Linked DNA regions of Homo sapiens. The protein of the gene in region 1 purifies or fractionates together with the protein of each later gene. This does not show direct contact. Each region holds a gene or a part of one and is shown in the gene's direction. Other genes may lie near its edges. The genes, in order: MOGAT2, DDI2 and HERC3.

Region 1 (3,652 bases):
TTTGGGCAAAGCTTTATCCTGTTCTGAGGCTCAGTCTCCCCATGTATCTAGTAAGTACACTGATTCCTCCTCCTCTGCATGCCTTCAAATCTCTGGCTTTCCGACTCCTGTCACCTCGTGGTCATTGTGGACGCTGGGCCCTGGACTTGAAGTTGTGTCCAGAGCAGAGCAGATCCCTGGATTTGAGTGAGCAGATCTTTCGGCTCCTTCAACGGAATCCCAGGCAATTTAAAGCCTTGATCTATGCAGCCAGGCAGTGATGGTTTATTGGCCAGAAGGGATAGGATGGGGAAGGCAGTGGGGACGCAGAGAAGGGACAGGCAGGGGCAGTTGGCCCTCCTCTGGAAGCAGGAGAGAAGAAAGGGGTAAGATATGGCCCGTGGAGACAGGCAGACTAGATTCTGATCCCAAGTCTGCCCCATACCATATCAGCTGTATGATCGTAGGTAAGTTGGTCTCTCTGAGCCTCAGTTTCCTCATATGTAAAATGGGGATAATGACACATACCTCACTGGGTTGTGTAGATTCAATGAGACAAAGCAAGTAAAGCACTTTGTAGGTTTTCTTTTTTTTTTGAGATGGAGTCTCGCTCTGTCACCCAGGCTGGAGTGCAATGGCACGATCTCAGCTCATTGCAACCTCCACCTCCCAGGTTCAAGCAATTCTCCTACCTCAGCCTCCCGTGTAGCTGGGGCTACAGGTGCCGGCCACCACACCTGGCTAATTTTTGTATTTTTAGTAGAGACGGGGTTTCTCCATGTTGGTCAGGCTGGTCTCGAACTCCCGACCTTAGGTGATCTGCCCACCTTAGCCTCCCAAAGTGCTGGGATTACAGGTGTGAGCCACTGTGCCTGGCTAGCACTTTGTAGGTTTTCAGTAAACAGGTAGCTAGTATTATTTTACCTCGGCAGTGGGACTCTGAGGAAGTGTGGTCGTGACCTCGAGTCTGGGGAGGACTCTGAGAGCCCAAGCCCTGCTGCTCTGACCTCCACACCTACGTAACTTCTCCCACCCCGCCTGGGAACCCTACCTCTTCCTGTCCCATCAGAAACAAGGTCTCCAGCTTGCAAAGGGGGAGGGGTAGAGGAAACAAACCCACCAAAGTTAAGCAACTTGTCTGAATTATGGGAACGCAGGGTGGTTGGGGTTCCTGCCTTGCTCCCTTCTGAGAGTCCAGGGGCCCAAGAAGGACTAGCAAAGGCTGAGCCACAGCTGGAATGCAGGAGCCTCTAGCACTGCAGTGAGCAGGGCCTCCAGGGCAAAGGGCAATGGGGGTGCTGGGCAGACAGCGGGCAGCGGCTGGCAGAGACTGCCGTGCTCACGAAGGGTGGTAGATGTGGTAAGGCGGAACATGGTCTAGCCTGGGGGGCTCAGGATGGGGGCAGTTTCCCCTGCACCTCATATGTGTTTCCTGCAGGGCCCACTCCTGGGTCTTGTCAGCAAAGAAACTTAGGGCTTGCTGAGTTCTGGGAGCAGTCATGGACGTGTCAGAGGCAGAGTCCTCATCCCCACCCCAGGACCTCTGCACTTTGAGATTCACCTCCCTTTCCTGCCTCTCCTCTCTCCAGCCTGGGCTTCCTCTTCTGTGCCAGGAAGGTCAGAGTTTCCCTGGGAAAGTGTGCTGTGGCCAGCCTGGGGACGTGTGTGTGACATCAGGGACCAAGCCAAAGAAAACCTGAAGCAGGCTCTGGCCTCCGGGAGAGCTTCAGAGGTTCTGGCTCTGGTCTCACTTCCCACTCTTGAGCTGAATCCCAAGCTCACCGGGGGGGAAAGGAAAAGCAGCCTGAAAAGGCAAACACACAAGCACAGGCCCAGACACTTGCCGCAGGGTGAGTTCTGAGCCACAGCCTGACATTCAGCGCGGCTAAAGCAGAAGGCAGGCCTGCAGAGGAGGCTGGGGAGGCCCTCAGGTCAGAGGGTGGAGGCCATTGGAGGACATTCCGCAGGACTGGGACTGCTCACCTGAAAGTTCTCCCGGGGTGTCTTCAGCCAGCCCAATGGCCTCAAAGGACAGCATCTGGCCCTCTTTGCACCTGGAGCATTTCCATTTGCAGGTCTGGCAGAAATGCTGAGGCAGCTCTGCGCCTACCCTATCAACGTCCGTCCTTCCTGCTCCTTCCCCAGCCAGGTGGCTTTTGAGGAGGATATCTCAACCTTAGTACTGTTGACACTGGTGGGACACAGGCCTCGATTTGCAGAAATTCTATGTGCATCTTTTTGTTTCTTTGTTTTGGTTTTGTTTTTGTTTTTTTCGAGACGGAGTTTCACTTTTGTTGCCCAGTCTGGAATGCAGTGGCGTGATCTCGGCTCACTGCAACCTCCACCTCCCAGGTTCAAGCGATTCTCCTGCCTCAGCCTCCTGAGTAGCTGGGATTACAGGTGCCCGCCACCACTCCCGGCTGATTTGTATTTTTTTAGTAGAGACGGGATTTCACCATGTTGGCCAGGCTGGTCTCGAACTCCTGACCGCCCACCTTAGCCTCCCAAAGTGCTGGGATTACAGGTGTCAGACACTGCACCTGGCTCTGTGCACTGTTTTGTTTTTTGTTTTTTTTTCCAGGATCCTTCCTCACCGCAGGCCCTTTGCAGCACCATCTGCCGAGGGTGACAATGCCACTGAGTGGCCAGCAGAGGGCGAGATGATGTTCATTTTGACTATGTCCTAAGCTGGGCCTGTGGGGTGGGGCTGTGGCCTGTAGACGCTCTTTCCATAGACCCTCCCACCCTCCCACACGCCTTTACTGCCCAGGCCCCGCAGGGATCATGGGGTGAAGAGACAGTAGGGATCCTCATTCCTGGGCTCAAGCAATCCTCCTGCCTCAGCCTCCCAAGTAGCTTGGACTACAGACACGCACCACCACAACTTTTAAAAAAATGTTTGTAGAGATGGAGTCTCACTGTGTTGCCAGGCTGCTTGGCCTCCCAAAATGCTGAGATTAGAGGTGTGAGCCACCACACCTATCCCACACCTTTTAAATATACTGAAACCCTGAATGTCATACTTTAAACGGATGCATTTTATGGTGCATAAATTATATCAACTAAAAGCAATAGCAGCCCCCAGAGCCTAGTAACCTGGCTGTGCCCTTCTCCAGGCCCCACTGCCTACTGCACACCCAGCCTGCCAGGGCATGCACCCAGGCAGGATTTTCCCCAGACAGCCATCTATCTTCGCTTAGTCACACTCCCCTCGCCTAACAGAACTGAGGGAGGGAGACAGACCACAGCACTTCACAAACCTCCCCTCTTCTTTGTTTACCCCCCTTGAACCCTGTAGCAACCCTGCCAGGGAGGCGTTATCAGTGTCCTGTGGGACAGAAATAATTGAGCCACAGAGGGGACAGGGGCTTGGCAATGGTCATGTGATGAGCCAGCGGCAGAACCGGGGTCTCCTGACTCAAGGTTCTTTTTCCCACTAGTGGAACCCTGGTGACATGCCAGGATAGGATTGGGGTCAGGGAGCCTTCCTTCTGAGGCTGTACCAGCCTCATCCATTGGGCTCATTCCTTCCTTCCTTCATGCTATACCCTTTCCAGAGCATCTCCTCTGTTCCAGGCCTGCACTGGGGACACAGATGCATCAGATACATGGTCTGTAATCTTCACAGGGATGTTGTGATAGATTTGGGTCCAGGGGACAGATGGAAGAGGTT
Region 2 (3,652 bases), on another chromosome or scaffold:
GCCTCAGCCTCCCAAGTAGCTGGGACTACAGGCGCATGCTGCCACACCTGGCTAATTTTTTGTATTTTTATTAGAGACGGGGTTTCACCGTGTTAGCCAGGATGGTCTCGATCTCCTGACCTCGTGATCCGCCTGCCTCGGCCTCCCAAAGTGCTGGGATTACAGGTGTGAGCCACCATGCCCAGCCAGTACCGATATTTTAACCTTAGTTAGATCTTCAATTAAAGAGATCATCAACAAGCCAGCTGATGCCAGCTGATGCCAGGAAGGTTCAGTGCCCTGTATGGCAAAATGGAATCACCATAACCTCAGTCCACTCCAAGTTATTTTTTGTATTTTTTGTAGAGATGGAGTTTTGCCATGTTGTCCAGGCTGCTTTCGAATTCTTGGGCTCAAGCAGTCTGCCTGCCTTGGCCTCCCAAAGTGCTGGGATTACAGGCATGAGCAGTTGCACCCAGCTAACTTGTAGCCATCTTTATGAATCGAGTTTTCTCTGTAAATTACTCTCATTTTACTCTTGGGTTTATGAGTTAAATTGGGTTAAGTCTAAAAACATAACAGACACTTAATGACTCATTCCTCAATTGACTGTCTTTAAATTGGCAATCTTTACCTTAAGCGAAGTACTCAGATTTTAAATATACAATTCCTTGAGTTTTGACAAACTCCTGTAACCCCAATCAAGACACAGGACATTTCTCTCACTCCAGAAAGTTCCACTGTGTTGCTTTCTAGTCAATCTCCTCTCCTTATAGGTTACTACTGTTTTGATAATCTTATGGTTTAGTTTCCCGTATTTTTAAACTTCATGTATATGGAATAATAGAGTGTCTGCTCTTTCGTGTTAGGCTTTGTTTTTTTTTTTCTTGAGACGGAGTTTCACTCTGTCTCCCAGGCTGGAGTGCAGTGGCGCGATCTCTGCTCACTGCAACCTTCGCCTCCTGGGTTCAAGCGATTCTCCCGCCTCAGTGTCCCAAGTAGCTGGGACTACAGGCGTGCACCACCACACCCGGCTAATTTTTGTATTATTAGTAGAGATTGGGTTTCACCATGTTGGCCAGGCTGGTCTCAAACTCCTGACCTCGTGATCCACCCGTCTCGGCTTCCCAAAGTACTGAGATTACAGGCGTGAGCCACCACTCCCAGCTCGTGTTAGGCTTTTCACTCAACTTAATGCTTTTTAGATCCATCTGTATTGTGTGCATTAGTAGTTCAGATAACCATTGTCATAATATCTTTTAATCTCTTATATCAGCATATCTAATCACCAAAGATGGTGATGATGGGGCATTTAAGTTTGCACACTTAAATGTACCACCATTTAAGAAATTGCAAAATAGGCCGGGCACGGTGGATCACCTGAGGTCAGGAGTTCAAGACCAGCCTGGCCAACATGGTGAAACCCAGTCTCTACTAATAATACAAAAATTAGCTGGACGTGGTGGCAGGTACCTGTAATCCCAGCTACTTGGGAGGCTGAGGCAGGAGAATCACTTGAACCTGGGAGGTGGAGGTTGTAGTGAGCCAAGATTGCGCCATTGCTCCCCAGCCTGGGCAACAAGAGCGAAACTCCATCTCAAAAAAAAAGAAATTGCAAAATAGGTTCTTGTTGTAACATACATCTTATAGCAAGCAGTGTTTTCTCTACTAATTTTCCTGCCTATTAATTCATCAGAACACACACAAAATATAGGTAGACTAAAAATAGTTTATACTTAATGTATCTGGCTTAAGGCAGGGCATGTTATAAAAGAAATGAAACTAGAAGAGGAAAAGGAGATTATATAATGCTGTATTTTGTTTCTAGGTAGTAGGATAATGAGAACAATGAGGAATGGAGGAGTGGAGACATTGATCTGCCACATGGTCACTCCCCACCATTTTAAATTGGAAAGTTGTTACCTCTGAGTAGAAACAATATGATAGATAACTTCTTATAAAAAATTTTTGCAAATACTTTTTTTTTTTTTTTTTTTAAAAAAAAAAAAACAGGGTCTCACCATGTCACCCAGGCTGGAGTGTGTGGTGCGATCACAGCTCACTGCATCCTCGACCTCCTGGGCTCAGGCCATCCCCCCACCCTTGAACCCCCATCCAACAGTAGCTGGGACTACAGGCATGCACCACCACGCCCAACTAATTTTTATATTTTTTGTAGAGACAAGGTCTTGCTATGTTGCCCAGGCTGGTCTCGAACTCCTAGGCTCAAACGGTCCTCCCACCTCAGCCTCCCAAAGTGTCGAGATTATAGGCATGAGCTACCACACCCAGCCACAAATACTTTCTTTACACTGAATTTAAATGATGAAATAGCCTTGACTCAGAGAACAGAAAGTAAATGTAATTGCTCATTTTAAATAAGCTTTAGGCATCCTCTCTGCATCTCTTACAGATGTAGTTTGATAAATTGTTTGGTGTGGAAAAGTACTGATAAACGTTGAAAATATAGTGATATTTAAGATTTTTCTCCCTTATTTTTGTAGAGAAATTTTCTAGAGTCCTGGTGGAGCAGCAGCAGGACCGAGCCCGGAGAGAGCAAGAAAGGATTCGTCTGTTTTCTGCTGATCCCTTTGACCTTGAAGCTCAGGCAAAGATAGAAGAAGATATAAGGTAAAGACCTGTTCATCTAAAGAACAAAACTTAGAGACTCCAGATTTCCCAGACTGCAGGTTATCTGACATTGGTTGGGCATCTGCTTGGAGGTAGCTTCTCTGTTTTGCAGTTGAGATAGTAACCTCAGTCTTTTAGGTTAGTCTCTCCTCTTTCATTTTCTATGCATTTCGATTTGACATGACAAAGATATAGGTGCTTAGTTTAATGACTTTCTTTCTAAAATTTTAAGGAGGACTCCCTGACTAGCAGACAGAGCATCATAACACAGCTTTAGATAAATGACCCCCGGACTGAGCAGAAGCCACCATCTGGTGAGACCACAAGGCTGGTTGCATATTACATGGGCTGATTTGACTCTCTTTCTTTAGACATATTGTATAAGTCCTGATTAAATCCAGGGCTTAAACATGATTGGATTAGAGAGGGCTCTGCGCCGATGGAACGTTGGTAGTCCTAAGTCTGTTTTCCTGCTGCATTTCTTGTACTGGCCTCAGTGGATAAACTGAATGCTGGACATGTTTCCAGCTCTCAGTTTCTGTAATGCGGTGGTTCTCACCTGGGGCTATAGTAAAATCACATGAGAAACTTTTAAAAATGCAGATGCTTGGACTCTTCTCCCAAATCTGATGAATCAGAATTGTCGGGCATGGAGCTCAAGCAAGGACAGTGACGCTGTTCCGGCCTCAGTCACACTGATAGTCACAAGCAAGATTCTGTTCAGTCATTCTCTGAAAAAAAGGACAGCTGCTTTTCCTGCCTCAAGTCAGTTTTTGTTGCTAATTGTGAAGAACTTAGTATAACTAAGAAGAAGATAACAGCAACGATACTTACTACACTTAGACTGCTTGGCCTTTTAGGGACCGTGTCATCATTCCGGTTACTTAAATGAAGCCTAACTTGGTCATTGTATTACACTATCTATCAACTTAGAAATTAAATCATGCTTTTTTAAACTTCTTATTCTTTTTATCTTTTTTTTTTTGAGACAAGGTCTCACTCTGTCACCCAGGCTAGAGTGCAGTGGCACAATCACAGCTCA
Region 3 (3,652 bases), on another chromosome or scaffold:
TGTGAAACAGAGAGGTGGCAATATCAGAAGAAATCTTACCTGACTTTCAAGTTTTAGAGTTTTTTCATTTTTATTTTTCCAGGCTGGAAAATACAAAGAGAACATAATTGTTCAATTTTACACTTTATTTTTAACTTCTAATTATTGATATTTAAAAGAATACCCCAAAGTAGAGAGTATGCTACAGGTAGTCACCACACAAATTCAGCAGTTGTCAGTATTTTGCCCATTTTATTTCATCTGTCCCTCGCCCTCACCACCTTTTTATTTTTTGTTGGAGTATTTTAAAGGAAATCTCAGACATACTATTTCATTCTTTAAGTATTTCAGTATGGCTGAGTTTATTTCCAACGAAGTATAAGCCAGTGGTATATCTTCTTGTCTGGTTATGAGAAAGCATTTTTTGGTGAGAAGTAAAAATCGTAGTTTTTCAACTAATGATACCTCTTAAAGGGAAGGGAATGGTTGCCATATTGGTGCTGCTTCTAGGGTATGTGGTGCGTCATCCTTTGCATTTCTGCTTCAGGATTTAGTGATGGCTGAAAGCGCTAGGACATAAGAATGCTTTTTGGATTAATACATTGGGCATCACTCCTGCCCAAAATATGTGTATCTTGTCCACATGTAGTCTGGAATTGGACTTTTAAGTTAACCTTCAGATTGAGTCTTTGCAAAAAATCAGACCAGGCTTTACAAAAAAAGCTCCAGGGATTCTTTTACAGCTGTTGTTCTCCCCAAAAAGGTTTTAATGGATTCTTTTTAAAGTCAGTTTTGGGAAAATGTATTTTAGACTAATGTTTATCTTCTAGACAAAGCAATTTTTAACTGGCAGGCAGAAGACATAAATACTTGCCCAAGATTACATGTTGAAATATGTCTTTTCTTTCTTTCTAAAGATAACTGGTGGTCTCAGGTATGCCCGAAATATTTCATGAAGCTGGTAAACCTCTATAAAGGTGCAGTCCTTTATCTACTGAGGGGAAGAAAGACATTCTTAATTCCCGTACTGTTTAACAATTATATCACAGCAGCTCTCAAACTCTTGGAGAAGTTATATAAGGTGAGCATAGGAGGTGCTAGTGGGGAGGGGGTGATTAGATGGTAGGGTAAAATGTCCTAGTGAGATGTTCTCTGGGAAGCCATGTTTCAGTTGTCTGTATTTTGTTCTTCATTAGGTAAATCTTAAAGTGAAGCATGTGGAATATGATACATTTTACATTCCTGAGATTTCCAATCTCGTGGACATTCAGGAAGACTACCTCATGTGGTTCTTGCATCAAGCAGGGATGGTAAGAATTCATAAAGCATATTTTAAAGCTTTAGTCTTTTTATAAGAAAAGCACATGTGAGCTGTATAATATGTCTTTGACTTTGATGTCAGTGTGTCACCTATTCTTCATCCAGCTGGCCTTTTGCATTCTAGAAACTTGGAAGTGCTTTAAGTAATCATCAATGTTATAAGGAGTCATAAATGAGTAGTCACCCAGAATGTTACACATTTTATCAGTTGCCCCCTTTAAAAAAATCAGAGTATCTAAAGTAGTCAAATCCACAGAAACAGAAAGTACAGTGGTGATTGCTAGGGGCTGGAGGCAGGGGAAAATGGAGAGTTGCTATTTAATGAGTATAGCTTCAGTTTTGCAAGATAAGAAAGTTTGGAGATCCAATTGTACACCAGTGTGACTATACTTAACACTGCTGAAAGTGTACACTTAAAAATGCTTAAGATGGTACATGTTATGTTAGGTTTTTTTTTAAACCATAATTAAAAAAACAAGACACATACAAATATGAATTTTTAGCTTTCCTCAAAACTTGGAAGATCTGGCAACACGACCTGTCTTCCCATATGACACCAAGTGGCTGGAGTTCAAGAGTGACTCTTTAGATGAGGCTTATGTATATGCCACAATTCCCACTGCAGCGTAATTTATCCCTGACATTGAGGAAGGGTCATTTGCTAATTATCATCTTCTGACAGCCTACTCCAGTCATCATATGTCAGCTACCTGGACCCCGTAGGCCCCTTCTGATTGAGAATTATGTGTGTGAAAGTGTCACACATCCCTGACCAAGTGCTGTCTCACCGTATTTTAGATATGCCATTCAGGGGCCTGTGGATTCCTGCCTACCACCTCTGGCGTGGCAGGAACTGCTCCTTTTGATAGCACACCAGCTTGGGATATATGCAAGGCTCTTTAGGATCTCCCATCTGTGGAGTATGTGCAAATTTGAGTTAGGTCAGAAAACAGAATGATAATTTGGTTATTGTATTTTGTGAAGCCATGTGCAGCAGATTTGAGGTGAGTCCTTGCCAGTGTAGCAGGTTCATCACCAGTATTAGGGCAATATTTTTCCTGTGGGGTTTTTGGAAGTCAGCAGTTGTCTCCAAAAGCAAGACATTTAAATAGGCTGATCTAACTGAACAAGAAGGATTGTTTTCTTTGTCAAATAATAGATGATGAATGCTAGACACAATGTTGTATTTTTTTCTCTAGAGACTTAAAAAATGCATACAATGTTTTATTTTTAAATAAGATTTTATGATTACCCTGAGAAAACAAAATACTTTTTTTTTGAGACAAGGTCTGGCTCTATCACCCAGGCTGGAGTGCAGTGGCACCATCTTGGCTCACTGCAACCTCTGCTTCCCAGGCTCAAGCCATTCTCCCACCTCAGCCTCCCGAGTAGCTGGGACTACAGGTGCGTGCCATCATGCCTGGCTAATTTTTGTATTTTTTGTAGAGATGGGGTTTTGTGATGTTTCCCAAGCTGGCCTTGAACTCATGAGCTCAAGTGATTCACCAGCCTCGGCCTCCCAAAGTGCTGGGATTACAGGGGTAAGCCACTGTGCCTGGCCAGGAAAATACTTTTTAATATAAATGAGTTAGAGTGTTCTAAATGGGCTGACTTGGGAAATTTAACATGGAGGCTAGTAATGAACTCTGTTTTCACTTTCAAATTTAGGAATTATTAAAAAATAAGCCCTTCTGTTTTATCAATTTATGAATAATTATTCACTGAATAATAACATTATGAGCAGAAAAATAAGCCTGATGAATTATTTAGTCCAACTGCTTTGTTTCTAGATGAGGAAATGGAAGTTAAACAATTTTTCCACTAATTTCATTAGTAGCAGTAAAAGTCAATTCTTCTGATTTCTAATCTACCCTTTCTGTGACTTGATGCTGAATAAAATAAGTCTAACAAATTGTAATTCTTTTTTACTCTGAAAAAGAAGTTGCTCATGTTAAAATCTAGATTATTATGACAGTAGTCTCTGAGTAGAGATATTTAAGTAACTTTTACAATATTTTAAACTTCCTTTCTTTTAACATTTGATAAATATCTTATCAGATCTTGAATAACAGATGCTCATCTCTTCAATAACTATAATAGTTATTAAAGAAATATGGAAAATTACATGAAATTAGTATATGGCCTTTTGTGATTTTTGTGGAATTTTTTTTATTGTATGAGGTACAATGCTATTAGAAATTGAATTTTAAATGTCTTGATATTTTGAAGTTTAATTTAAAATACTAAAGCTATTTCATATGTTATTTTTGTTTAACTACTTTTAAATAATAGATGGATTTTTTTGATGTGTGTTGGCATTTTTAGCTTGTTAATAGCTGAGGCTGTGTAGTAT

Evidence for each region.
Region 2: the proteins of MOGAT2 (region 1) and DDI2 purify together in Homo sapiens (affinity purification with mass spectrometry; one large-scale study listed by BioGRID and IntAct). This does not show direct contact.
Region 3: the proteins of MOGAT2 (region 1) and HERC3 purify together in Homo sapiens (affinity purification with mass spectrometry, with the first as the bait; one large-scale study listed by BioGRID). This does not show direct contact.

What each region holds. Positions count from the first base shown.
Region 1 is NC_000011.10:75,720,726-75,724,377, forward strand, and holds part of MOGAT2 (2-acylglycerol O-acyltransferase 2), read left to right. Parts: intron 1-3,652.
Region 2 is NC_000001.11:15,630,956-15,634,607, forward strand, and holds part of DDI2 (protein DDI1 homolog 2), read left to right. Parts: intron 1-2,483; coding exon 2,484-2,610; intron 2,611-3,652. UniProt on the Homo sapiens protein: Aspartic protease that mediates the cleavage of NFE2L1/NRF1 at 'Leu-104', thereby promoting release of NFE2L1/NRF1 from the endoplasmic reticulum membrane.
Region 3 is NC_000004.12:88,668,964-88,672,615, forward strand, and holds part of HERC3 (probable E3 ubiquitin-protein ligase HERC3), read left to right. Parts: intron 1-896; coding exon 897-1,060; intron 1,061-1,175; coding exon 1,176-1,289; intron 1,290-3,652. UniProt on the Homo sapiens protein: E3 ubiquitin-protein ligase which accepts ubiquitin from an E2 ubiquitin-conjugating enzyme in the form of a thioester and then directly transfers the ubiquitin to targeted substrates.